Linked DNA regions of Homo sapiens. The protein of the gene in region 3 interacts with the protein of the main gene of each other region in a pairwise test. Each region holds a gene or a part of one and is shown on either strand. Other genes may lie near its edges.

Region 1 (7,035 bases), on a different chromosome or scaffold from region 3:
TCCCTTTCCCAGTTCTAAGGCTTGGGTAAGTGCCACTAGTTCTGCTAACTGGGTGCTGGTCCCTGGGGGAAGAGGCTTAGTTTCAAGTACTGTTACTATGGCATAACCTGCCCTTCGTATCCCATTCTCCACAAATGAACTTTCATCGGTATATAGGTTAAGGTCAGGATTAGCTAAGGGGACTTCTAAGAGATCATCTTGGGTGGCATAAGTCTGGACTATAACCTGTTGGTAGCCATGCTTGACCAGCTCCTCATCCTCTGGTAGAAAAGTGGCAGGGCTGAGGGCCACACATGTATGCACTTGAAGCACTGGTCCCTCAAGGAGTAGCGCCTGGTATCTAAGCAGGCGGTTGTCTGATAACCATAAACTTCCTTTGGCACCTAGTATGCCATTTACATTGTGAGTAGTCCAGACAGTGAGATCCTTTCCTTGTATTATTTTGATAGCCTCTGACACTAAGACAGCCACCGCCACAACTACCTGTAAACAGTGAGGCCAGACTTTTGCTACTATATCAATTTCCTTACTTAGGTATGTCACTGATTGTGGGGTTGTCCCATGAGTCTGAGTAAGGACCCCAAGAGCTATTCCTGCTCTCTTTGTGATGTATAAAGAAAAGTTTTGTCCTGTGGGAAGGCTTAAGGATGGACCTTGAGTTTGTTCCTTCCAATGCCCAGACTTCAGGGTTGATTCCCTCCTCAAGCAGGGGACAACAAATGGGTAACTTGTTCCCCATATTCATAGATAATAGCTCCAGCTTTGGCTAATATGTCCCTCCCTAATAAGGGTGTGGGACTTTCAGACACAACAAGAAAGGCATGTGAAAAGAGCAAAGTCTCCCAGTTACAACTGAGGAGGTGGGAGAAATACCTGGTTACAGGCCATCCCAGGATTCCTCAGATGGTAACGGACCTTGAGGACAGCTGTCCAGGACAGGAGATTAACACTGAGAAGGCCATGCCAGTGTCCAGGAGGAAATCAATTTCCTGGCCCTCAATGGTTAAACATACCCGGGGCTCAGTGAGGGTGATGACATGAGCTGGCACTTGCCCCGGGCATCCTCAGTCCTGTTGTTGGATCATCTGGTTGGGGGCTTCTGGCCCAGAGAACCATTGTACTCTGGGGCAGTGAGCCTTCCAGTGATTGCCTCCGCATAGTGGACATGGGTGAGGGAGCAGCTTATTTCTAGTAGGACAATCTTTTTTAAAGTGTCCTTGCAAACCATACTGAATACAAGCCCTACCAGGTGATTGACCTGCTCTATTTTCTGTCCTCTCTGAACCACCAAGGTTTGTTTGTCTGAGGGCCATGACTAAGGCTGTGGCCTTTCTCTGATCTTGCTTTTCTTTTTGGGCCTGTTTCTCTTGGTCCCTATTATAGAACACCGAGGTTGCCAGGTTTAATAATGCCTCCAGATTTTGTTCAGGGCGCAAGGCTCGCTTTTGGAGCTTTCTCCTGATATCTGTGGCTGATTAGGTAATAAACTTATCTTTTAGAATCAATTGACCCTCGAGTGGGTCGGGTGACAGGAGAGTATATTTTCTTAAGGCCTCCCATAGCTGTTCGAGGAAGGCAGAAGGATTTTCTTCCTTTCCCTGAGTTACGGTGGACATCATTGAATAATTCACAGGCTTTTTCCTAATTCTCCTTAGTCCTTCTAAAACACAGGTCAACAGATGTTTGCAACTCCAGTCCCCATGATCTGAGTCGAGGTCCCAGTGGGGATCCATACTGGGGATGGCTTGCTGACCAGTAGGGAATTTGCCCCTTTCTTCGACTGTCATTCTATCATTTACTTGACTAAGATACCAGGTATCTCCAAACTCTCGGGCTGCAACTAAAGCCACATTCTTTTCATTAAAGGCCAGAGTTTGACCTAATAGCATGATATCTCTCCAAGTGAGGTCAAAGGTTTGCCCTAGACCCTGTAAGACATCTATATACCTAACAGGATCATCTGAAAACTTCCCCAGATCTGCCTTGATCTGCTTTAAATCAGAGAGGGAGAAGGGGACATGTACCCGGGTTGGGCCAAATTCCCCTCCCCCTACAGCTTGAAGGGGACATAAATGATAGCTCAGGGGTTTTTGTGGTCCTTTGGAGATTTCTTTGTTTGTTTCCTTCTGGGTGGGGGAGATTAGAGGAGGCTTATCATTAATAGGAAGGGGAGCTATAGGGAGGCTAGGATATGGAGGTAAGCTGAGAGGTCCTCCTGTGGGATGTAAATTGCAAGTTTTGCATAGTTGTGTATTCTCCTTCAATGAAAAGAAAGCTTGGACATAAGGTATTTCACTCCATTTGCCTTCCTTCTTACAGAAAAAGTCAAGCTGCAGGATAGGATTGTACTTTATACTTCCTTCAGGTGGCCATCTTTCCCATCAGAGAGAGAATATTGGGGCCAGGCCATAGTGCAGAAAAAAGTTAGCTGCCTCTTTTTCAGGGTTTGCAGGTCAAATTGGTCCCAATGGCTTAGGATGCATTTCAAGGGTGAGCCTGTTGATGCCTGAGTGTTTCCCATCTGAAAGACAAAACCACCCTTGGTCTTGGTTTGTTTCTACCCCTCCCCAAGAACCCACAATAGTCCCTGGACCCTGCTGATTGGAATAGTTGCACTTACTGATGCAGCAACAGAAACACCTCTTGCCCAAGAACCCGCAACGGTCCCTGGACCCTGCTGATCAGAATAGTTGTGCTCACCGACGCAGCATCAGAAACACTAGTTTTCCTCTTAGACCAAAAAGAGGACCGAGGAAGGTCAGATTTAGTGGCCCTTACTGATGCATTCTCAAAAACCTGCATTCTTGCCTGTCCTCTTAGACCACAAAGAGGACCAAGAAAAATTGGATTTAGTGGCCCTTACCGATGCATTCTCAAAAAGCTGTTAGAGTCCTAAGCATTATCCTGTTAGTATTGGGACCTTACCACTGTCCTATAAAGATGTTATGCCCCAAAAATGAACTGGACGGACATACCCTGAGAGAGGGAAAGGATCTCCAGAGTTGGAAGAGTGATGCTTTTTGTCCTCACTTATATGAATAGGAAAGATACCATTTCCGAAGCTCCCCATATCCTAGCTTCAGGAATAGCTTTTGTTAGGCCTGCTTGTCTGAAGAGGGATCCTAAAATTCCAGATAGTCCCTTGCCCAGATGGGACTTTGGGCAAAAATTATGTCTTTCTGATTGGTGAGCCCGGGTGCCTAAAGAAGGTAAAAGAGTCCTGAAGTTTATACTAGAAATCATTCTTATAGGAGAAACTAGAAAAGCACCAGAGACAGGGAGTGCTTTTTAGAAGTGGACTAGCCTCAGAGAAGAGAGGCGAGAGGAAGTTTGTCTGACAGGCATTAGGACCCAGGAGGCAAGGGTCAGGAGATAGGATAGATGGGCAAGTCTCGCTTGGGTGACATGATTTTGAGAGTTCCACTCATGGCCGCAGGGTCAACCAACTTGTTGTTGGGACCCCGGAGCTGAATGGCTTTCCTCTCTGTCAACCCTCGGCTCAGCCTGGAAGTACCATTAAAGTGGAAGCTGGCTCCAGGCAAACCAACATTCCCAACTCCATAGAGTCAGGGATTGTTAGAGAGCCCTATCCCAGAAAGCCTGGCACCTGTGTCTTTAGTCCAGCGGCCGCGCTAGTTGCTTTTAGCTGACCGACAGGTGCCCAGTATTTACCCCCAGAATTCTAAGGAAAAACAGGACAGAATAGCAAGCAAAAGGGGTCTGATGGTACTCATCACTTGGCAATAGGCGAGAGTCCCATCTGGGTTGCCAAAATGTGTCCAGAATTGGTTGCTTCTGGTGGGTTCTTGGTCTCGCTGACTTCAAGAATGAAGCCGCAGACCCCACGGTGACTGTTACCACTCTTAAAGATGGTGTGTCTGGAGTTTATTCCTTCAGATGTTCATATGTGTCCGGAGTTACTCCCTTCCGGTGGGTTCGTGGTCTTGCTGACTTCAGGAGTGAAGCCACAGACCTTCACAGTGAGTGTTACGGCTCTTAAAGGCAGCACGTCTGGAGTTGTTTGTTCCTCCCAGTGGGTTCATGATCTGGCTGACTTCAGGAATGAAGCCACAGACCCTCACGGTGAGTGTTACAGCTCATAAAGGTAGTGCGGACCCAAAGAGTGAGCAGCAGCAAGATTTATTATGAAGAGTGAAAGAACAAAGCTTCCACAGTGTGGAAGGGGACCCGAGCAGGTTGCCACTGCTGGCTCAGGTAGCCAGCTTTTATTCTCTTATTTGGCCCCCACCATGTCCTGCTGATTGGTCCATTTTACAGAGTGCTGATTGGTCCATTTTACAGAGTGACTGGTTCTGTTTTTACAGAGTCCTGATTGGTGCATTTACAAACCTTTAGCTAGACACAGAGCGCTGATTGGTGCATTTTTGCAGAGTGCTGATTGGTGCGTTTACAAACCTTTAGCTAGACTAGACACAGAGCACTGATTGGTGCATTTACAATCCCTTAGCTATTCAGAAAAGTTCTCCAAGTCCCCACCTGACCCTGAAGCCTAGCCAGCTTCACCTCTCAAGAGGAGATAAATGTTTATACAGTGTAACTTAAGCAACGCTACTCAAACTGCAGGTCTGCGATGAGAAAAGGAGCTTGTACCAGAATGTAAGTTAATGAGTGCTTCCTTCATCTAGAAAGTCTTGCTACAGCCTCTCCCTCTCCCTCTCCGTCTCTGTCTCCCTCTCCCCACGGTCTCCCTCTCCCTCTCTTTCCACGGTCTCCCTCTGATGCCGAGCCGAAGCTGGACGGTACTGCTGCCATCTCGGCTCACTGCAACCTCCCTGCCTGATTCTCCTGCCTCAGCCTGCCGAGTGCCTGCGATTGCAGGCGCGCGCCGCCACGCCTGACTGGTTTTCGTATTTTTTTGGTGGAGACGGGGTTTCACTGTGTCGGCCGGGCTGGTCTCCAGCTCCCAACCACGAGTGATCCACCAGCCTCGGCCTCCCAAGGTGCTGGGATTGCAGATGGAGTCTCGTTCACTCAGTGCTCAATGGTGCCCAGGCTGGAGTGCAGTGGCATGATCTCGGCTCACTACAACCTCCACCTCCCAGCAGCCTGCCTTGGCCTCCCAAAGTGCCGAGATTGCAGCCTCTGCCTGGCCACCACCCCGTCTGGGAAGTGAGGAGCATCTCCGCCTGGCCGCCCATCATCTGGGATGTGAGGAGCCCCTCTGCCTGGCTGCCCAGTCTGGAAAGTGAGGAGCGTCTCTGCCTGGCCGCCATCCCATCTAGGAAGTGAGGAGCGCCTCTTCCCGGCCACCATCACATCTGGGAAGTGAGGAGCGTCTCTGCCCGGCCGCCCATCGTCTGAGATGTGGGGAGCACCTCTGCCCTGCCGCCCCGTCCGGGATGTGAGGAGCGTCTCTGCCCGGTCGCCCCGTCTGAGAAGTGAGGAGACCCTCTGCCTGGCAACCGCCCCGTCTGAGAAGTGAGGAGCCCCTCCGCCCGGCAGCCGCCCCATCTGAGAAGTGAGGAGCCCCTCCACCCAGCAGCCACCCCGTCTGGGAAGTGAGGAGTGTCTCCGCCCGGCAGCCACCTCGTCCGGGAGGGAGGTGGGGGGGTCAGCCCCCCGCCTGGCCAGCCGCCCCGTCCAGGAGGTGAGGGGCGCCTCTGCCCGGCCGCCCCTACTGGGAAGTGAGGAGCCCCTCTGCCTGGCCAGCTGCCCCGTCCGGGAGGGAGGTGGGGGGGTCAGCCCCCCGCCCGGCCAGCCACCCCGTCCGGGAGGGAGGGAGGTAGGGGGGTCAGCCCCCCACCCGGCCAGCCGCCCCATCCGGGAAGTGAGGGGCGCCTCTGCCCGGCCGCCCCTACTGGGAAGTGAGGAGCCCCTCTGCCCGGCCAGCCGCCCCGTCCGGGAGGGAGGTGGGGGGGTCAGCCCCCCGCCCGGCCAGCTGCCCCCTCCGGGAGGGAGGTGGGGGGTCAGCCCCCTGCCCGGCCAGCCGCCCCCTCTGGGAGGTGAGGGGTGCCTCTGCCCGGCCGCCCCTACTGGGAAGTGAGGAGCCCCTCTGCCCGGCCACCACCCCGTCTGGGAGGTGTACCCAACAGCTCATTGAGAACGGGCCATGATGACAATGGCGGTTTTGTGGAATAGAAAGGGGGGAAAGGTGGGGGAAAGATTGAGAAATCGGATGGTTGCCGTGTCTGTGTAGAAAGAGGTAGACATGGGAGACTTTTCATTTTGTTCTGTACTAAGAAAAATTCTTCTGCCTTGGGATCCTGTTGATCTGTGACCTTACCCCCAACCCTGTGCTCTCTGAAACATGTGCTGTATCCACTCAGGGTTGAATGGATTAAGGGCGGTGCAAGATGTGCTTTGTTAAACAGATGCTTGAAGGCAGCATGCTCCTTAAGAGTCATCACCACTCCCTAATCTCAAGTACCCAGGGACACAAACACTGCGGAAGGCCGCAGGGTCCTCTGCCTAGGAAAACCAGAGACCTTTGTTCACTTGTTTATCTGCTGACCTTCCCTCCACTATTGTCCTGTGACCCTGCCAAATCCCCCTCTGCGAGAAACACCCAAGAATGATCAATAAAAAAAAAAAAAAAAAAAAAAGTCTTGCTACAAAGTGCTTAGGGTGTAGCTGATTTACTTTCAGGCACAAGCCTCTTATCTCGTTTCATAGATTAGTTAAAAATTGGGAACTTCTAATTACATTTTGAACAGTGCTAATTTAAAGTAGGGGCCTCCATTGTTCAAGTTCCAGTATTTGAGAGACTTTCTTTGCACTAAACATTGCCTTCTCCTTCAAATCAATTTCCCCATTGCCAGGAGGCATCTGAAGCAGAAAATCATCCTGGTTAGGATAATGAAAGGCAAAGAAAAGAGGTGGGGAGGGTGCCAAATAAACTTGACCTAATCTTCCATTTTGCACACAGGAACTCAAAGTCACCTATCATATGCTAGAAGCTAGTGATTAAATTGGTTACAGATTACTCGCTGAATCCCAGGCAAAAATAATGTGGTTAAAAACAGTATTTAAGCATGTGAAAAATCAGATGTATCGGCTAACAGTCCTGTTCACCTT
Region 2 (7,035 bases), on a different chromosome or scaffold from region 3:
TACACTAGTTTCACTCTTTGCAAACCTTGCTTTTTCCTGTCCCTGAAGTCAGCACCCAACCGGAGTAAGTATGTAGCAGAAAGTTGCTTGTTGAATTGAAAAAGGTAATAAAAAGGAAGAGCTGAAGCAGCAAAAACTGCTGAGAGTGGCAGCTCAGGACTTAGTCTTAAAAAGTGTTATCTGGTAAATTTCATGGTCTTTTCTCCCTTTCTTCTCAGGTTTTTTCCCCTTGAAAATTAATATTTTCTCTATTCATTTAATCATTTTATAAGAAACCAAGTAATATAGAGTATATTTTAACCTCCTGAAATAATAAAATGACTGTAGCTCCTTTAAAGGGTACTAAAAAAATAAGTATGACATAAATTTCATTTTTCTTAAAACTTTCACTCACGTGGCTCCTAAACTTCCAAATGCTTTTCATTTCGTCCTTCTGCAGCTTTGTGTGGAGCTGAGCTGGAAGATGAAATAGCTCCTCCCAGACTAACCAGCCTTCCAGCACCTTCTGCTTAGCTGAGACCCTGACGGCTGGAAGTTTGCCTCACAACCCTATGAGCTTCCAGAGGGCACAAGATGTGTCTTGTAAATGACCATATCCTTAGCACCAAACAGGTGCTCAGTAATCATTAGCTGAAGAAAGGACTGAATGAACGCTCCAAAGGCTGGGGCTGGAAGGGCCAGGTAGAGTAGAAGGGATGGGGAAGAGACCCCCTTTATGGGATCTGGAGCCTCAGGAATGGACAGACCCAATTTGGCCCTGTGACAGGCCTGTGGGACCACATCCTATAAAGCATAATCCCAGGATCAAGAGAATTCCTAACCAGAACCCCAGGCCCCCAACTCCTTAACCTCACCTCCTGGGGCAAAAGCCAACTCCCCTATGCCCAATGGACATTGGTTCTGGCCAAGTGGGAGGTGGGGCTAGAAGACAGGGTACTGGAGGACCTGTCTCTTTTGCAGGGTGAGGTGGTCCCTCAAAGATCTTGATGGAGGGGAGGAAGGGCTTGGGCAGAGGACTGGGTGGGCCAGAGAGGGGGGCTGGAGTGTCCCTCCTCCTGGGAGGCCAGCCAGAGAGGTCATCAGGTTGGGAGGTGGCCATGCCCCTTCTGGCCAGGGACCCTGCCCCTCACCAGCTTCTACTTCTGCATGTCACACTGCAGCAGCAACACAATGGATGGGTCACTCTTGGCTGCCTCCTTGAACTCCTCCAATGTAATCTGGTCGTCCTTATCCTGGTCCATCTTCTTGAAGATCTTGTCCACACGCTGCTGGGGCGTGAGCCCGTCCTGGTTCATGCGCATCATGATCACGGTGCCCACCATCTTGTAGATTGCCTGGTGAGGGAAGGAGGAGGGAGGTGTGAACACCCACAAGGGGCCCCGAGAAGCAGCGGGTGAAGGAAAGGGATCTGGCAGGGAGAACACTGGGGGTTGGTGAGGATACTGGAAGGTATATGTGGTCATTAAGACTGGATATTTAATGAGCAACTCTTTTTTTTTTTGAAACAGAGTTTCGATCTTGTTGCCCAGGATGGAGTGCAATGGCGCGATCTCGGCTTACTGCAACCTCTGCCTCCTGGGTTCAAGTGATTTTCCTGCTTCAGCCTCCTGAGTAGCTGGGATTACAGGCATGCACCAACACGTCCCGCTAATTTTTGTATTTTTAGTAGAGACGGGGTTTCACCATGTTGACCGGGTTGGTCTCGAACTCATTACCTCAGGTAATCCACCGGCCTCACCCTCCCAAAGTGCTAGGATTACAGGCGTGAGCCACCACGCCCAGCCCTCAACTAATTTTTTATTTAGACTAAATAATATTTATGTGGATGAAACATGCCAGAAGCCCAACTCCGTGGAGACCTTACTGATGGGGCTCCTGGCTCCCCGTATGACCACCTTCCTATCACTCTCTCCCTCTCATGGCTCTCCCACCACCGGGCCTCCTGGCCCCTCCTTGAACTCTGCAGAGAAAGGCCGACCTGCCTTAATTGCCCCTCAGCATGGAACGCTTTCCCCCAGGCATCTTGCAGTAAAGGCCTCACCCCATTCAGGCTGCTGCTAACTTTCCATCTTATATAAAGTAACTTCTCCATCACGCGCTCTCCCTGCACTTTGCTTAGTGTATCTTCCTCATAGCACCTACGGCCTGACCCCGCATGTCTTCATTCATTTATTTTTTAAAAAAATTTCTCACTAGAAGGAATGCCCCATGAAAGCAAGAACTGGCAGGCGCTCAATCCCTGCCTGTTGACAGAATGAGTTGAAAACATCAGCTATGAGGTCAGACTCCCTGGATTGGAATCAGGAACCCGGCCGTTTCCTCCTCTGCCAAATGGGGTTTGGGACAGTAACCAACCCCTCCGCCCCGTCGAGTGTCGGGTAAAGCATTTAGCCCGGGCCTGTAGCGGGGTGGTAGGAGGCGGGATCGCAGGCTGGGGAGCAGCAGGGAGGCCCCGAAGCCCGAGAGCAGCGCGGAGGCAGGGGCGGGGATGGCGAAGCGCTGGCCTCGGGAACAGCAGCGCCCGCGCGGCCCCGCACCTCGATGATCTCCAGCATCTCCAGGCGCGTGATGCGCCCGTCGCCGTCCAGGTCGTACATCTCAAAGGCCCAGTTGAGCTTCTGCTCGAAGCTGCCGCGGGAGGTGACCGACAGGGCGCAGATGAACTCCCGGAAGTCGATGGTGCCGTCGCCGTTCTTGTCGAAGGTGCGGAAAGCGTGCTGCGCGAACTTGGAGGCGTCGCCGTAGGGGAAGAACTGAGGGGGGTGCGGTGGGTTGGGGCGCAGCGACAGCCCCGCCCACCCCGCCCCCATCTCAGGGAACCTCCCCTGCACCCCGGGTGCCTCGCCTCCTCCCACCCCGGGTGCCTTGCCCCCGCCACCCCGGGTGCCTCACCTCCCCCGCACCCCGGGTGCCTCGCCTCCCCTCCCACCCCGGGTGCCTCGCCTCTTCTCATCCCAGGGTGCCCTGCCTCCCTCACCCCCGGTTCCTCGCCTCCCCCAACCCGGGTACTTGGCTCCCTCACACCAGGTGCCGGCCGCCCACCTTGATGTAGAGCTGCTGAAACTCCTCCAGGTTGAGGATGCCGCTGGGGCAGTCCTTCAGGAAGCCCTTGTACCACTGCTTCAGCTCCTGCTCGCTGAACTCAGTGTTCTGAACAAGGTCCTCCAGCACCTCGGGGGCCAGCTTGCTGTTGGTCTTCCCCATGGCGGGGCCTGTGGGACAGAGGGATTCCTCCGACTGGGTCCAGGGAAAGGCCCTGCCTCAGCCACAGCTGCCCCCTCCCCTGCCACACACAGGGCGGGGTTGCAGGTTCCTTCCCCTCATGACACTCCCCCATAATGGGGCCTCCTCTCCCCTCACAACACCTGCATTCAGGTAGGTTTCTTCTCCTAGCCCCGGGGGTCTCCCGCCTTCCAGGTCTCAGCTCTCCTCCTCACTGACCGTGCAGCACGCCACAGTCTTCATCCTCTCCCCTCCTGCTCACACCTTTCATGGCTCCCCTGCCCACAGACTAAGGCCTTGACTCCTCTCCTTGCCATTTAGGGCTTTCTGAAGTCAGCCCCCACCCTCCTTGGCAGGCTTCTGTCCTGAGAAGGGACCCAAGGTAGGTTCCTTGTGTGTCCCCTTGGCACTGTCTCCCAATTTCTTCCTCAAGGCTTTCTTGGGCCACCCCAGCAGGGAGCTTCTCTCCCTCTTTCCTCTATACAAATAGAAATCCTCTACTGACATTTGGCTTTTCATTAATCCATTCATTCCCTGAGCATTTATTGAGACTGACTGTGTGCTAGGCCCTGTGCCAGTGATGGAGATGAAGCAGACATGAGCCAACCTTCAATAACTTGTAACTGGGTCAAAGAGGCAGATGGTTGGTTACAAAGGGCCTCCAATCCATGCCAAGAAATTGGAGGGAACAGACGCTCCTGGGATTTTTTAAAACAAGGGCTGGGAAGATTGCATTCATTCCACAATATTTACAGAATGCTTATGATATACCCAGTCTTGAACGAGTCACTGGGGACCCAAGAAAAGGTATGTGTTTTAAAATTTTTCCAGGCTGGGCACCGTATTTCATGCCTATAATCCCAGTACCTTGGGAGGCTGAGATGAGAGGACAGCTTGAGGCCAGGAGTTTGAGACCAGCCTAGGCAATACAGTGACACCTAGTCTCTACAAAAAATTTAAAAATTTGGCTGGGCGCGGCCGGGCACGGTGGCTCACACCTGTAATCCCAGCACTTTGGGAGGCCAAGGTGGGTGGATCACGAAGTCAGGTGATCAAGACCATCCTGGCTAACACGGTGAAACCCTGTCTCTACTACAAATACAAAAAAATTAGCTGGGCGTCGTGGCAGGCGCCTGTAGTCCCAGCTACTCGGGAGGCTGAGGCAGGAGAATGGCGTCAACCCAGGAGGGAGAGCATGCAGTGAGCTGAGATCGCGCCACTGCACTCCAACCTGGGTGACACAGTGAGACTCCACCTCAAAAAAAAAAAAAATATATTGGCCGGGCGCAGTGGCTCACGCCTGTAATCCCAGCACTTTGAGAGGCTGAGGCAGGTGGATCACGAGGTCAGGAGATCAAGACCATCCTGGCTAACACAGTGAAACCCCATCTCTACTAAAAATACAAAAAATTAGCCAGGCATGGTGGCGGGCGCCAGTAGTCCCAGCTACTTGGGAGGCTGAGGCAGGAGAATGGCATCAACCCCAGAGGCGGAGCTTGCGGTGAGCCGAGATCGCTCCACTGCACTCCAGCCTGGGCGACAGAGTGAGACTCCGTCTCAAAAAAAAAAAAAAAAAAAAATTCACTGAGTGTGGTGGTGCATGCCTGTAGTCCCAGATACTTGGGAGGCTAAGATGGGAGGATCACTTGAGCCTGGGAGGCAGGGGTTGCAGTGAGCTGAGATGGCACCACTGTACTACAGCCTGGGCGATAAAGAAAGGCCCTGTCTCAAAAAAGAAAAAAAAGAATTTTTCCTTTGGCCACAGCATGCAAGATGACCTTTGGTGGGGGCAGGTAGGTAGAGCAGGGAGGGGCCTGCTACACGGTTCAGGTGAGAGACAATGCTGCCAGAGTAAGGGTCGTGGAGAGACGTGGATGGGCTGAGACGTTAAGAAGGGCACTGGCAGGACTTTGCAGTTGATTGGATGTGGGAGTAAGAGGAACAGAGGAGTTGAGGCAGAGGCTCAGATTTGAGCCTCAGTGGATAGAAGTGTTGTTGCTGAGAAGCAGGTTTGGGAAGGATCAAGAGTTATTCCCCAGTGGGAATGTGAGCCCGTAAGTGGGCTGTGCCAGGGGAAGTGTTTGAAGAGGTACAGGCCCTCCTCAGGAAGTGTGGCCAGACCTTGAAGGCAGAGTGGACCCTCCTCTCTGACCTCCCTGGGAGGAATGTCCCTGCAGAGTCTGGGTTTCCCAGGACATGGCTTGGGAGGTGCCTCTGACCTGCCTAGAGTCTCTTTGGAAGAGGGTCAGGCTCCCACCCCAGGTAGCCTGTCCTCAAGATACTCTGGAAAAGGAAGCCCTTGGGCTGGCAGAAGGAATTCCACTCCCATAGCCCGATGTCTGCCAGTGGGCTTCTAATTCTTACAACTGGGAAAACACTAAATAGCAAATCTGAGGTTGGTCCATTCCTTCCCACTCCCCTTTGCTGGGCTGACCTCAGGCTAGTTACAGATCCTCTCTGGGCCTCAGATTCCTCCACTGGGCCATAAGGAAGACCAAGGAGCAGTGCAGGTAGCAACATCCTTCCCCACTCCCAGAGGATGAGGAATTGTATGCCCTCAGGAAAAGCCAGGGAGGGGGAGCATGCCATCTTCAGGAACCTGAGGCTGGGCGGAAAATGGCTACACTGAGGCCAGAGCAAGGATGCCTCTGGAACACCCATAGGCAAAAGGAGGCAGGCCTCACCCCTCTCCCAAATCCAAAGGACTCTCAAGGCTCAGGGTATAGTCAAGGAAGCTGGAGAAGTCAGGCAGAGATGTCTGATGGGGGGAGGCACAGCCTCTCCAGCTGTCTTCCGTAGGATGTGCCTGAGAGTCAGCATGAGGGGCTGGGTCTGTGTGTGGGAGCATGTCAATGTCTGAGGCTGCAAATCTGTCAGAGTGCACACGTCTCTCTGTGTGTGTCACAGTGTCTGTGTGGCTCTCACCTTATACCCCTTTTCTCCTCCCTGCTCTGTGCTGCCTTCTCCACAATTCTCTGTCTCCTAGGGTCCTTCCTGTTCCCTGCTTTTATTGGGTCTCAGACCCAGACTATGCCTCCTCCTTTATTTCTCCTCATTCCCTCTAGATCATCAGAAGGTCAAAGCTGAGCCTGGGCAAGATAAGGAAACCCTGTTTCTACATAAAATTTAAAAATTAGCCAGACATGGTAGCATGTGCCTGTAGTCCCAGCTGCTCAGAAGCTGAGGTGGGAGGATCACTTGAGCCCAGGAGGTTGAGGCTGCAGTGAGCCGTGATTGAGCCACTGCACTCGAGCCTGGGCAACAGAGCAAGACCCTGTCTCAAAAAAAAAATAAGTAAATAAAAAATTAAGAAAAGAAGGTCAAAACTGGCCGTGCCCTTTAAGATCATCCCCTTATTTCAGTGAAAATGGAAATTGAGAGATAGGAGAAAACTGGCTCAGGGTTACACAGCAGGTCAGTGGGAGGGCCCAGATGAGCACTCAGGCTGAATCCGTGCTACCTGCCTGGGCCACCGTCTCCAAATCATGGCTACTCTTGTTCAGCACAGACCTTCTCCACCCACATCTGCCCTCTGGGAAAATCAGAGCTCTGATCTCCCTTTTGGCCGCAGTGGAACCATCTGGGGCCACAATCTCTGACACCCAGGAGATAGCCACCCTAGGGGTGTCCACCAGCACCTCTGAGACAGCAAGTCTACAGCCAGACTCGCTCCCAACCAGAGATGGTCAGACTGTCTCTGTTGCCCCTTCCTTCTCTCCCTCATCCCCGGGGTGTGGGGAACACAATCTTAGTTACCTTCATTTTTTCCCTTCCCTTTGCCCTAGGTCTAACTTGCCATCAAGTCCTGTTGTC
Region 3 (7,000 bases):
AGGACACGCAGGTCTCTGGTGAAGGAAAAATCAATCATTTGGCATCATGAGTCAAAGTCATCGAGTATCTCACTGAACGGAGAGGGCATTTTGATAGGATATCCAGGAGAAAGCAGCTGGAATCTGAGAACTCTGATCATGCCAGCAGCTTCTATAACCAGGCTAGGAGTTCCGAAAACACAGCGGGGGAAATGACTACCACCAAGCACCAAATACAGGAAAGGGATTCTACCTTCATCTCCCCAAGGAGAGACACTGGAATGAAAGCACAAAACAGAGCCCCAAAGCCCTAGTTCCAGCTCCAACTCTAAGAGCAATCTAAGCTGAAACAGCCCCAAGGGGCGGCAGAGAAGTGGAAGAAGCCAAGTTTAGCCTTGAAAGCCCCAAGATGTTTTAGACAGGGCTGCAAGGAAAAAACATCCTGTGTCTCAGTCCGCCAGACTGCTATAACAATTTACCATAACCTGGCAGCTTATCAATAATAGGAGCTTCTTTCTCACAATACTGGAGACTGGAAGTCCAAGATCAAAGCGCTAGCAGGTTCAGTGTCTGGTGAGAGCCCAAATTCTGGTTCACGGACAGCGCCTTCTCACCATGTCCTCACATGGCCGAAAAGACTAGCTAGTTATCTGGGGTCTCTTTTACAAGGGCACTAATCCCACTCATGCGTGTTCCACCCTCATGACTAATCACCTCCCAAAGCCCCCACCTCCTAATCCCCCATCACCTGGGGGGGTGAGGATTTCAACATGAATTCAGTAGGGGCACATAGGCATTCAGACCATAGCAACCTGCAAGGAAGGAGCTCAGAGCAGGAGCCAGCCTCGGGGTGGAAGTGGAGATCTGAAACACTGAGGCCAGCAGCAAATTACAGCAAGTGTCCAGCATTGAAGAGTGTCATTGGACAGGTCCAAGTCGCTGCTGTTCCCTAAACAGTGAGAGAATGAAATTCAAATTTTAGGTAGATGTTGATAATGCTCTGAACAGCTCAGGCAGGGGAGAGTGAAGACAGATCAGAGACCAATGAAGAAAAGAAGTCATCGGGACTCATGGGAGGAAGGACAACTCAAATGTAGAGGTAAGGCTCAAAGATGACCCTGACTGCGGCTTCTGGGATTTGAGAGGAGAGCAGTGCCACTGAGAGAGGTTGGGAAATTAAAATATGTAGTCAATCTTTTGGAAACAAAATGCTAAGTTTGGTTTTAGATCTGAGTTCAGGCTTACAGCATCTCGTATTTGGAAACAGAAGGGCAGAACTTTCACAAGGTGAAATGTAGCTTTCAGACGAGGGTGGTTGGAAGCGTGAGAGAAGAAAGCAAAGCCATGGCCAGACTCTTACCCTTCTGACTTCTTACCTCTTTTAGCTTAAAATGTGCTAAGGAATTCCAGTGGAAATGGTGGAATTGCTACCTGATGACAACTCAGTGCCTCACTAGCAATCTCACGCAGCTAACACGATCCACTCCTATCACACGATCCACTCCTATCACATACATTTTCATCTGGCTGCAGAAATTCCATCTAGTTAATAAAGTTTTCTGATGCGATAGGAAAAACCAGTAACATAACCACAAATGTAGGCCGGAGCCCCCAAACCCCGATGCTTCCTGTACCCTTCAGTGCACTATGCTCGTCCCCATTACTCCAACAGTTATGGACTTACCGATTATGTGCCATAATACATAACATGCGTGTGTCTGTTGGCATGATACTGCTCAGAGGAACCCTGGCCTCTCAAACAACTCAACAGGTTATATGCTACAGTCTTTCAACAAGTATTTATCATCAGCTTACTGTGTTCCGGGTACAAAGAGTAAGTCAATTCCTGCCCTCAGTTCATTGTGTAGTGCTACATATCGATGAATATTGTGATGCTCTCAAACTTGGAGTTTATGATGTGAGGAAGATAAGAGCAGCATGTAGAAGATCCACAACTTTCATTCATCATGCACTGACATCCTGAAAGCATCTCTTGTAGAATTCAGTCTTCCATACATCCCCAGAGGGTTGCCGATGTCAGCTGAAACAGGAGGGCAGGGCCAGCCAGCTGCTGCTGCTGCTGCATGGGAAGGAGCCTGGCCATCTGCCAAGGAGGAACGGATGATTGATGGCACGCTGCTGGGACCCATGCAGGAGCCAGACCAAGCTTAGCAAAGAGGCTTCCACTCTGGTCCTTGCTGAGGGCCTGGCGGCCACTCACCCTCATAAGACCCATGCCCCAGGCTGATGTCTCCTCCCCCAGCCAGGCTCCCACTCCTTGCCTCAGCTGTCCTCCTTTCCTCCCTTCCCCCACCCAACGCAGGGGCTCACAATAACTCCTGAGCCTGAAGATCGCAGGCCAAGGCCCCACGTGGACTGCACTGAGCTTAATGACCTCTTCCCCACCACTGCTGCAGATGCCTAGCAAGTCTCTGCTCAGAGATTTAAAGATGAGGGGTTCCCCACCCTTCATCCTGGCCAAAGTCACAAAAATAACTCAGGGAAAAGTTCAGAGAAATCAGCCAAAATCTATCACCACTACTGGAAAAACTCGGAACATGCCCCATGGACAATGGGGCAGCTCTGTTAACTTCTCTGTATCATGATGGTCACACGAAAAGATGACATTTCTGGTCTTTGTTCTCAGGCATTAACCATATTCTTCCCAACGTTCATAAAACACTATTGACTGCACTCTTGGTGAAGTGCTGTGAGTTCTTGGTGGGCAGCACTCTTGGTGAAGTGCTGTGAGCTCACTACGTGGGGAGATGAGACAGATTGTGCGAGTTCCGTGCAATAAGACATCTAATTAGCAACGCAAGATGCCATAGAAAGGATTCATAAAGTAGTACATAGCTATTTGTCCAGTAGAGAAGAAGGAGATCACTTAGGTTGGAGAGAAAAAGGATGGGTTTCCGGGAGAAGGGGAATTAGAGCAGGGCAAATTTCAAGGATGCTTCCTTGAAGATAAGGATATATGGACAATACAGGTCTTTCCTAAGCAGGCCTTTAATAGACATTTAATGAATGACTAAGTAAAAAGATCCAAGTGTGCAATCCACGCTATGGGTATGGTCGTGTGAGCAATACAGAGGCAGAAAAGTGAAACACATTAGGCAGAAGATGGGGTTCTACAGGGACACAGTGGAGAAAAAGACTGGGAAAGCAGGTAAGGATCACATTGTGGGAGGTACAGAATACCCTCATCCCAGGGACTTCAGGGAAACACTAAACGTTCTGGAACAGGTTGTAAAATCAAAGAGCTCTGGGCAGGATGCAAAGAGGGGAAATAACAATTCTGTATCCTACAATTTAGAAATTAATCACACATTGGGGAAAACTTTTCTAAAAGGAAAACTGTTTTCTATCATTTTCTTTTAAAAATCAACGTACATCACTCACAATACAAGAAATACACATAATGCCTTCTACATAATAGTGGAAGGAATTTGTCCTCAAAGATCTGTTCTTTGTATAAATGATGCCATCACAATTGATGCTTCAATAAAAATGAATATTTATGAAATGTAAAATGACTTGGATTAACTTATTCCGATTTCACTCTCTAAATTTTGATTTTTCAATCACGCCAAAATGTAGATTTTGATTACAAAAGCAAGTTGCAGAAAAAAGATGTACTTGACAAGAAAGAGCAAAATTGAAAAAAAAAAAAACTTCAAGTAAGTATGACAAAAGATGACAGAAAGGTGGTCAATTAGACTAAAAACAGCGAGACAGATCATCTTCAAAGTGGAGTTATGTAATTCACAAATGCAGTCACATTACAAGAAGCAAGTTACAAAAAAGCATCAAAAGTCTATGTCTTCCATCCATCCTCATTACACAGCCCCCTCCTCAGCCATTAATTTCTTAGCTATCCTTTCAAAGTTTCTCTATACATATTATTTTCCCTTCTGTTCACAGAAAAGTTAGCATACTGTATATATACACTGTTGAGACCTTGCTTTTTTCACTTAATGCTACATCTTGGCAATCCCTCCATACCCATTCACACAGATGTTCCACATTCTTTTTTACAGCTGCATATCCATTGTGACAATGAACTGTAATTTATGTAACTAGCCACTACTGATAGGCACCTGGGTTGTTTCCAGTCTTGTGCTATTGCAAACAAAGCTGTAGTGAATAACCTGGTGCAGTCATCATTTGGCATGCATAGCAGTTATGTCCAGACGATAAATTCCCATAAATTGAATTCCTGGGTCAAAAGGTATATGCATTTGAATTTTTGATAGATACAACCAAATTGCCTTCCATAGGAGTTGAGCCAATTTATACTCTTGCCAGCCATGTACAAGAGTGTATTTTTCCTTAAGAATTTACCAACACAGTGTATCGTCAAAGTTCTGGATTTCTGCCAGTCTGAAACATGAAAAATGGTATTTGCATTCTCATTATAAGTGAAGTTGAGCATCTTTTTATATGCTTAAAAGCCAATTGTACTTTTCTGTAAACGGTCTGTTCATAACCTAACGTCTACCTTGCCAATGGATGTTGGTGTTTTTATTTCTAGAAGCTTCTTATATAATTAAAAAGATTGGTCCTTCACCTATGATATGAATTGCAACTATTTACCATCGTTTGTCTTTTGGCTTTGCTTATGATGATTTTTGCCATGCAGAAGAATTTTACTGTGATATGATCTAATTTATCAGTCTTTTTACTGTGATATAATCTAATTTATCAGTCTTACGTTTTCCGATTTTCAAGTCATGGTTAAGTCATGGCTTTCCTCACACCCAGATTATAAAAACATTCTGTTCTCATACTGTTTCATTTTTAACAATAACCTAAATGGAAAAAGAGTATAGGAGTTAAGGCCAGAAACTCTATAGCCAAACTGACTACGTTCATATCCCAGCTCCACTACTTATTAGCAATGTATGTTGTTTAAACTGCCTAACATCTATGGGCCTCAGTTTCCACATCTATAAGTGGTGATAACAGTTACTACTTCTTTGGGTTACCGTAAGGATTAAATGCATTAGTAAATTACTACAGTGCCTGGCATACAAGACACTTAACAAGTGTGAGCTATTATCATCATATATCTGGAATTTATTCCATCAAACACTGAAATTTATCCTGGCTTACGGTGTAGAGATCCAACCTTTTTTTCCATATGGCTACCCAGTTGTCCCAATACCATTTATTGAATATTTCACCTTTTCCCCACTGACTTGAGATACCACCTTTATCAAATGCTGCATTCCCTTATGTATTTAAGAACTTCTGATCTTTTTTCCTCTTTTGTAGTTCTCGAATTGCTTTGTCTGATCACACTGGCTGTACCTACAATGTAAAATAATAATCTATCATTCAAAGTAGGCCAATTCATGTTATAATCCAATTTAGGTGGCCTGGGAGAAATTAAACATTAAGAAGTTTAAAGGTTTGAATCTTACCTTCTTACAAAGTATAAATCAACGACTAGATCACACTTAATAAAAAGGTGGAAGTTTCCTTAATACAAAAAAGGTAGAATTTATTTTTAAAGGTGGGATTAAAACTAAGATAACACCAAAATTTTGCTAACAGTGCACACTGTAAAAGGTACTAGGCTGTTCTCACTCCTCGTCTTGGTCTGAACATCAGTGGAAATCTCAACGTTTCTTCATTAAGCCTAAAATGGGCTTTTGGGTTCAAATAGATATGCTATGTCAAGGAAATAGCCATTTATTCCTGCTCTGGAATTATCTGCTCTTTAAATATTTGGTAGATAATCTTGGTGAAACTAGACAATGCTTTGAGAGGAGGTAACTCTTTCATAGCTTTATTTCTTCTATAAAAATCAACCTGCTTAAATTTTCTACCTCTTCTGGGGTCAATCTGGATTACTTATATTTTCCTAAAAATTATCATTTTCATCAAAGTTTTAAAGTTTATTTTAAAAGAGTTCAGTAGTCTCCTAACATTCTTCAAATTATCTGTTTTTATGATCTCCTCTTCTCAGGACTTATTTTGTATATTTGTACTTTCATCTTTTTCTTGAGACTACCTCATTGTTTACAAATGTCATTAGTGTAGTTCAATTTTTTTTCAAAGAGCCACCTTTTGGATTAATACATTGTTCTACTGTTTTTTTCTATTTAAAGTTCTTAAAAGAGAATACCTTCTGATGGTGCTCTACATCTGTTTTTAACATGTTAGTGCCCAAAAAAAGCACTGTAACAAAAAAATACAATGAACACTAAGAATGTAAACGCAAGAAAGCCAAGATAGAATCAAACTTGTCAAAGTTATTTTAAAGGACAGCTCCAAATCCCAAACACCTGATCCCACTGATACTCTATAAAAAGGTAAGATTCATTCCCAAACACAGATTAGCAATGTTTCCAATACGCAAAAACAAGTTCCACATGAAAGACGGCCTTTGTGTTAGTCTGTTTTCACACTGCTATAAAGAACTACCTGAGACAAGGTAACTTATAAAGAAGAGAGGTTTAATTAGCTCACAGTTTCACAGCCTGTACAGAAAGCATGGCCAGGGAGGCCTCAGGAAACTTACAATCATGGCAGAAGAGGAAGCTGGCACATCTCCACACAAAGGAGCAGGAGAGAACGAGAGAGCGCAAAGGGGCAAGCTACACACTTTTAAATAATCAGATCTCGTGAGAATTCATTCACTCTCACGAGAACAGCAAGGGGAAAGTCCACCCCCCGCATGTTTCAATCACCTCTCACCAGGCCCCTCCTCCAACAGGTGGGAATTACAATTCGAAATGAGATTTACGTGAGGACACAAAACCAAACCATATTGGACTTTTACAATAATTACAATAATTCACCGGAAATAAGATCAGTTCTGACTGTAAGGAACCCACATCTTAACAAAATGGAAGGCACTCTGAGGTTTTAATTATGAGCCTTCTACCTGCAGCCTATTTTGAACAATACAATACCAATACACTTCAACAAGTATGAATTCCCCTTGTCCCTCATTCCCAAGTTCTCAGAGTATTGCTTGGTGGTCAGGCACTGAAGCACAATGAGACCATCT
Region 4 (7,076 bases), on a different chromosome or scaffold from region 3:
CAGACCATGGGCAATTACCTTTCATGGCCTCCAGAGGGGTGGAGTAGCCGGGTCCACAATTCCCACATTTCGTAGCTGTGGAAGCAATGGGGCGCATTGGCTGGGCCACGCTCTGGAGGGTGAAGGCTCCCTCCGCACGTTCTGCAGCACACATCCCAGCGGGCCACGGCAGTGCGGCTGGCCTAGGTCCCCACTCCAGCCTCATCGCTCTGGCCTGTCCTCTCCGCCCCCTCAGAGCCCTGAGGAGGGTGAGGTTGTGCTGGGAAGAGCTGGAGACACATGACCTGAAGGTGGACAGACAGTCCAGCAGGGCCCCGGGAGGGTGGGAGGAGGGCTGATGCAGCCGGGGTCGTGTGGTGTAGTGAATATGACACGGACTCGGGGCCCAACCCCAGCCCACCACTGACTAGCCAGGGGAGCTTGGGCAAAGTACTGAAGCTCCTCGACCTCAATTTCTGCATCCTCTGTAAAATGGAGATGGTAAGAATTTCACAGTGGGCTTTTACGAGAAGTAAACACGAGGGTGCAGTAGGTGTGCAGCTCTGTGTTTGTCTGGTCGAAGCCCAGGCACCCTTGGCTGTTCTTGAGGAGCTGCTCTCAGGGAGTGGGGTGGCGCCTGCTCAGCTCCCTTCACCAAGATGCTTCTATATCAGGGGGAGGCCACTTCCTGCTTTTCTCTCCCCTGGGTCCTGATCCCAGGCTGCTAGCCAAGGGCTGGATTACATAACCGAGGGTCTGGGGCTAATACCAACTGGAAGTCCTCAGGCTGGTTTCTACCCCTGGGTGTGCCCCACTTCCTTTATCTGTAAAGTAAGGTGTTTGGCCCAACTCTGGAGAGCCCAGAGGCCTGCCCACCAGAGAGATAGGGAGCAACCCTCCCTATCTCTGAAGTCTGGCAAGAGGGGCCATGCTAATCTCCAGGATGTAAGTCAGCAGATGTGCAGTAGGGCTGGGACATCACAGCTACCAGCACCCCAGCATCAGAGTTTGGGGCCTGCTGGGGAGCAGGGGTTAAAGAATACCCAGAGGGGGTGGCAGGCTGAAAGAAACCCTGGAGTGGAGTCCACAGGCCTGGGCCCTGTCTCCTGCCTTGTCCTGTGGCCAGTCCAGCCTCTGCCTTCACAGCTGGGCCGCAAGTGGGGAGCCAGGAGTAGGCAGAGTGGGGCCTCCACTGGGGCCTGGGACTCCCACTCGCAGCAGCCAAGAGACTTAGGAAGCTGAGAGGCAGCAACAGCGTTCAGAGTCTGGAAACCTGGTTTCAAGTCCCAGTTTTGACGCCCCGTTTCTCCATTTTCTCCTCTTCATTTACGAAAAGTGGGCAATAATGATATTCTACCTACTTTGCTAGGTAGATATGGAGGACAAATAAGACAATGTATTCCAAAGGCCTTTCATAAAAATGAATTAGGCCGGGTGCGGTGGCTCATGCCTGTAATCCCAGCACTTTGGGAGGCTGAGGCGGAAAGATCACCTAAGGTCAGGAGTTTGAGACCAGCCTCACTAACATGGCAAAACCCTGTCTCTATTAAAAATACAAAAATTACCCTGTATTAAAAATTAGCCTGTATTAAAAAATACAGGCATACACCTGTAATCCCAGCTACTTGGGAGGCTGAGGCAGGAGAATCACTTGAACCTGGGAGGTGGAGGCTGCAGTAAGCCGAAATCACGCCACTGCAGTCACTCCAGCCTGGGCAACAAGAGTGAAATTCTGACTAAAAAAAAAAAAAAATAATGAATTACTGTGTAAATATGGGAAGGGCTGTGCCAGAGGAGAGGAGAATGCCAGGGAGTGCTCGATGCCCAGCGAGAGGGCTGGAGGTGGGGCAGGGAGAGAGAGAGAGGTCCAGTTCACAGGAGTTAAGGAGACTGGTTCTGTTACACAATCTTGCTAAGTCGGGGCTTGGCACCAGATGACAGGGGGTGGGGAAGGAGGTTGCTGGATACAGAAGGGAAAGGAGATTTTAAAACTCCAAGACCTCAAGACAGAGATACAAAAAATACAAAGCTAGGGAGAAGCTGAGAGGGAAGTAAAAGTGCAGAGATGGAGCTGCCCGCTCTGCAGCCTCGGCCCACCCCACACCCCAGCAACCCCAGCCCCAGCATTTCTTAGGGTCAGGCCTGGCATGCCACTGCAGCCCCAGGGAGCATCATTCCTCTTTCTGGGGAATACCCCCATCTGAAACATCTCAAGCAAGGTCTCGGAGCAGCTTTGGGTTTGGGATGGACTCATGGAAAGCTCAAGTGGGTTTTCCATGTCAGGCTGGCTGCTGGGCATTCTGCCAGCTCGGCATTCTGCCAGCTCAAGAGCCAGCCCCGAGCGGGGAAGGACCTCCCAACCAAACCTCAGTTCCTTCTTAGCCTGTCACCCAGAAGCCTACAGATGGAGGAATAGCAGGGCCAAGGGGGATTTAGGGGTGGGGGAGGCATTGAAACAGGTCCCCAGTGAAAGAGTGTGGGGGTCTCTGATTTCCCTCCCAGAGAGCTTTGCTGTGTGGAGTAGCTAGAGAGTGACCTGGGCACAGAAAGGCTTTGGACTCCCTACCTCGCTGGAGTACAAAGTTGGCCCATGGCTGAAATCAGGATCACCTCTCTACTATGTGAGGGCCAGGGACCTAGTGGTGTTTTCTAAGAGCGCCCATCTGATTTTCCCAGCTGCAGAAAGGCACCCTGGTCCCAGCCTCTGCTGGATGGAGCCAAGTCAGGGCCCAGGATCCCATCTCCCAGCAGTGCCTCTGCCCGTCTTCCTCAGAAAGTTTGGCTGAGCTGGGAAATGCAGTGGGGTGGTGGGGGAGGGGGTGTGCAGACTGGGGACAATGAAGCAGAGTCCACTACTCCCTCCCCAGCTCCCCACTCAGGTTTTCTAGCATTTTCTGGAGGAGGGCCTTCCAAATTAGGGGCAGACAGAGCAGGCAATGGGTGATTGGAAACCCCTCTCCTTACCCATGCTGCCGACTGGTACACTTTGATCCCGGCGGGTTTGCTGTGCTGGTGTCAGAGGCCGCTGTTCCGGGGAAGGAGCGAAGGGAGGGAATTTATACAACCAGCTGGGGGTGGGGCAGAGAAGGAGGAGGGCCCGGGCTGTAGCCCAGAGTAAACTACTCAGGGCAGCTGGCCAGGATACTCTCAAGTGGCCTAGGGCAACTGGTGTTTGAATTATGGGGTGTGCGTGTATGTGTTTAAGTGTGTATGTGTGGGAGCCTGTGCTTTATTTATTTATTTATTTATTTAGAGACAGGGTCTCACTCTTGCCCAGGCTGGAGTGCAGTGGTGCGATCTCGGCTCACTGCAACCTCTGCCTCCTGGGTTCAAGTGATTCTCCTGCCTCATCCTCCCGAGTAGCTGGGATTACAGGCACCCACCACCATGCCCAGCAATTTTGTATTTTTAGTAGAGAAGGGATTTCACCATGTTGGCCAGGCTGGTCTCAAACTCCTGACCTCAGGTGATCCACCCGTGTCGGCCTCCCAAAGTGCTGGGATCACAGGTGTGAGCCGCTGCCCCTGACCAGCTCGTGCTCTTTAGTGGGTGCCTGGGTGTGTGTGGATTTGTGTGTCTGGGCATGTGTGTGTTCCTGTATACCTGCGTGTTGCTCGTGCACGTGCCTGCATGAGTGTGTATCTGTGCCTGTGTGTGAATTTCCACGTGTGTGAATGTGCCTGTGAGTGTGCTTGTGTGTATTTGTGCGTGTGTGTGTGTGCGCGCCTCTGTATGTGCCTACCAGAGTATCTACGCCTGTGTGTGTGTGTGTGTGTGTGTGCGCGCCTCTGTGAGTATGTGCTTGCTAGAGTATCTACGCCTGTGTGGACATGTGCATAAGTGCTTGTGTATGTGTAGTGTGTGGCTATGTGGCTGTGCATGTGCTTGTGTAAGCCTGCGCACGTATGTGTTCCTGTGTCTCCAAATGCTCGTCTTTGTATTTGGACCTGTCTCTTAGCATTTAGGGGCACCCGGGACTGTGGGCCCATCAGCCAGGGTCACTTCTTCCCTAAGATTGCCCTCTTATTCCAGATATTCATACTCTTTGGATAAAAGCTCTGGGGTGAAGTTTTTATTGGCTAGGAAAAAGAATAAAGTCTGGGCTTGAGATTGCAAGTAGAATACAGGGTTTCCAAACCAGAGTGGGGGAAGGGGAGCAAAATTGGGCCTTGGTGCATTGGGTATCTGTCTTCCTGGCTCCCATCAGTGAGGGATCATGTGCCCATCAAGGAAGACTCCCTGTGGCTGCCCGGGGCAAGGGTCTTCTCTTATCCCCAGCGCCACTCAACCCCTCTTGGCTCCATCCTGCATCTATTATCCTCACCATTGTGCCATCAGCCTGCCAGGCATCAAAGAGAGTCTTGTGTGTGCAGCTGCCCCACGGGGAAGGCCCTGAAGGCTGCTTCCTTGTCTTTGCCAGCTTCCTCCTGTCCTGACTACCTCCACTCACCCTGCCTTCACCCTTCCCTCTGGCCCTCCCCTCTTCCTCCTCCTGAGGTCTCCATCTCCTGCCTCCTCTCTATTCTCCGGCTTCTTGGCTTGGGTTAGTCCACCACCCAAGATCTGAAAGAGAAAGAAACTTTATCCCCACCTTCTCATAAAAAATTATTGAGTCATTAACTTAAAAAAAAAAAGGCTGTTATTTTGTTTGTTGTGGTCTGTCATTGACTACCTCTTTCATGCTCCTGAGCTCTGACCTGGCTGGTCTCTGCAGCAACTCCATGGCACCCCTCACCTCTGCCTGTGGTTTTCTCCCTGAACTCTTGCTCTACAGCCAGCAGGTGGTTGGGGAAGTTATCCTAATCTGGGCTACAGAGGGAGGCAGTAAAGGTAGAGGGGCGATTCTCCTGCCTCAGCCTCCCGAGTAGCTGGGACTACAGGTGCCCACAACCATACCTGGCTCATTTTTGTATTTTTAGTAGAGACGGGGTTTCACCATGTTGGACAGGCTGGTCTCGAACTCCTGACCTCAAGTGATCCACCCACCTCCGCCTCCCAAAGTGCTGGGATTACAGGCCTGAGACACCGTGCCTGGCTGACCTGGATAATTTTTAAATTTTTTTTGTAGAGATGGGGGGTCTCACTATGTTGCCCAGACTGGTCTCAGACTCTTGGGCTCAAGTGATCTGCCTTGGTCTCCCAAAGTTAATTTTGGATTTTTAAAAAAATAATAAGTACTGCTTTTGTAACTAAAAGCTCAAATAAATATATTAAAAGAAAAACTATAAGGAAGATGAAAGGAAGGATGGAAGGTCACATGCAGTGCAGGTGAGGGCCACAGTGAGGGCCCATGCTGGGGAGAAGGACTGGCCCCGGTCCCTTTTGAGCTACAGCTCTCCCAACCAGCTGCCTATCCTTCCCTCTGGAGCACCTCTTTTGAGCCAGATATGGTAGACAAAGTGGTGAACAGGGCAAAGTTGCTACCTTCATGGAGATGACTTTTTAGGGGAGATGACTGATAATCATGCAAATACACAAATAAATAAAATCACTTCAGATAAGTGCTGTGAAGGAGTAGGGTAATGTAGGGGTGATGCAGCATTAGGTGGGGTTGCTTGGTATGTATGGGTACAGAATTATATGCAAACAAACAGTACAAAAGAACTAAAACAAACAAACCAAAAAGCACAAACGTGCACAAAATGCCTGTAAGGCATAAAGGTAGCAGCCCATGGAGGTCTGAGGCAGGACTGGCTGGAGAGGTTGGAGTTTTCACCAGCTAAGTAGAGTTTCAGAGCCCTGTTCTGCTCATTTCTCCTTATATTAACAGACCAACTCCATACCCTCAGGGATGTGTAGGAGATGTGAAGGGAGTAGCGTTTACTGAGAACCTGCTACTAGAGGTGACGGGCGCCATGCCGGGCCCTACACACTAACAATTAGCTCAGGTTCCGCCCATGGCACAGCTGGAGAGGTTAAATGCCTTTTTCTTTTTCTTTCTTTTCTTTTTTTTTTTTTGAGACAGAGTCTCCCTCTGTCGCCAGGCTGGAGTGCAGTGGCGTGATCTCTGTTCACTGCAACCTCCGCCTCCCAGGTTCCAGTGATTCTCCTGCCTCAGCCTCCTGAGTAGCTGGGACTACAGGCGCATGCTACCACGCCCAGCTAATTTTTGTACTTTTTAATAGAGATGGGGTTTCACCATATGGCCAGGCTGGTCTCAAACTCCTGACCTTGTGATCTACCCGCATTGGCCTCCCAAAGTGCTGGGATTACAGGTGTGAGCCACCGTGTCTGGCCTGTAAATGCCTTTTTCTTCATCTTACATTCAGGAAACAGAGTTTTCCCAATTCACTCCGTTGCCCACACTTAATGCACTGTTTCTGAATGACAGTGAGTTCAAAGCCTGCTGCTCAGGGTAATAACATGGCTCAGAGAAGAGAAATAATTTTTTTTTTTGAGACGGAACGTCACTCTGTCACCCAGGCTGGAGTGCAGTGGCAAGGTCTTGGCTCACTGCATGTTCCATGTCCTAGGTTCACGCCATCCTCATGCCTCAGCCTCTCGAGTAGCTGGGACTACAGGTGCCTGCCACCACGCCTGGCTAATTTTTCATATTTTTAGTAGAGACGGGGTTTCACCGTGTTAGCCAGGATGGTCTCTATCTCCTGACCTCGTGATCTGCCTGCCTCGGCCTCCCAAAGTGCTGGGATTACAGGCGTGAGCCACCGCGCCCGGCTGAAATAATTTTTTTTAATGCCCTCTGCCAGGGCTGTCTATAAAAAGCATGATTTGAGAACCACTTGGAGGACTTTCTCCTCACTGCCAATCCACTCAGAAATATCCTCCCTTTGGCCTGCCATTGATGCTTGAAACTTCACCAATAGCAGTTTATTTCTTTGTGTTACTACCAGATGGCCTCTTCTCACCTCCTGGCTACAGTGAATGTCTCTGGAGTGGTAACCCTTTAAGCTCCTAGTACTGCAGCGCCACTCAGTTTTATCAGAAGCCTGTGTCCCAGTGGGCAGCACTGAAGAGTGGCTGGGGGCCTATCATATCCAGGGAGATGCTAAGGTTGGGGACAGAAGGTGTTTAAAAAGCAAATGTTATCGTCTTGACTCCTTACCTCTATTGCTTAAAGAGAAGGAAGAATAAACAGT

Evidence for each region.
Region 1: the proteins of MSRA (region 3) and CTNNA3 interact in binary tests that used the Homo sapiens proteins (3 or more experiments, as listed by UniProt).
Region 2: the proteins of MSRA (region 3) and HPCAL4 interact in binary tests that used the Homo sapiens proteins (3 or more experiments, as listed by UniProt).
Region 4: the proteins of MSRA (region 3) and SELENBP1 interact in binary tests that used the Homo sapiens proteins (3 or more experiments, as listed by UniProt).

What each region holds. Positions count from the first base shown.
Region 1 is NC_000010.11:67,686,196-67,693,230, forward strand, and holds part of CTNNA3 (catenin alpha-3), read right to left. Parts: intron 1-7,035. UniProt on the Homo sapiens protein: May be involved in formation of stretch-resistant cell-cell adhesion complexes.
Region 2 is NC_000001.11:39,681,400-39,688,434, forward strand, and holds part of HPCAL4 (hippocalcin-like protein 4), read right to left. Parts: intron 3,213-7,035; 5' UTR 3,205-3,212; coding exon 3,043-3,204; intron 2,754-3,042; coding exon 2,538-2,753; intron 1,335-2,537; coding exon 1,137-1,334; 3' UTR 1-1,136. UniProt on the Homo sapiens protein: May be involved in the calcium-dependent regulation of rhodopsin phosphorylation.
Region 3 is NC_000008.11:10,057,292-10,064,291, reverse strand, and holds part of MSRA (mitochondrial peptide methionine sulfoxide reductase isoform a precursor), read right to left. Parts: intron 6,450-7,000; exon of another isoform or gene 792-6,449; intron 1-791. UniProt on the Homo sapiens protein: Has an important function as a repair enzyme for proteins that have been inactivated by oxidation. Catalyzes the reversible oxidation-reduction of methionine sulfoxide in proteins to methionine.
Region 4 is NC_000001.11:151,369,695-151,376,770, forward strand, and holds the start of SELENBP1 (methanethiol oxidase), read right to left. Parts: upstream 3,012-7,076; 5' UTR 2,948-3,011; coding exon 2,944-2,947; intron 285-2,943; exon of another isoform or gene 206-284; coding exon of another isoform or gene 76-205; coding exon 19-75; intron 1-18. UniProt on the Homo sapiens protein: Catalyzes the oxidation of methanethiol, an organosulfur compound known to be produced in substantial amounts by gut bacteria. Selenium-binding protein which may be involved in the sensing of reactive xenobiotics in the cytoplasm.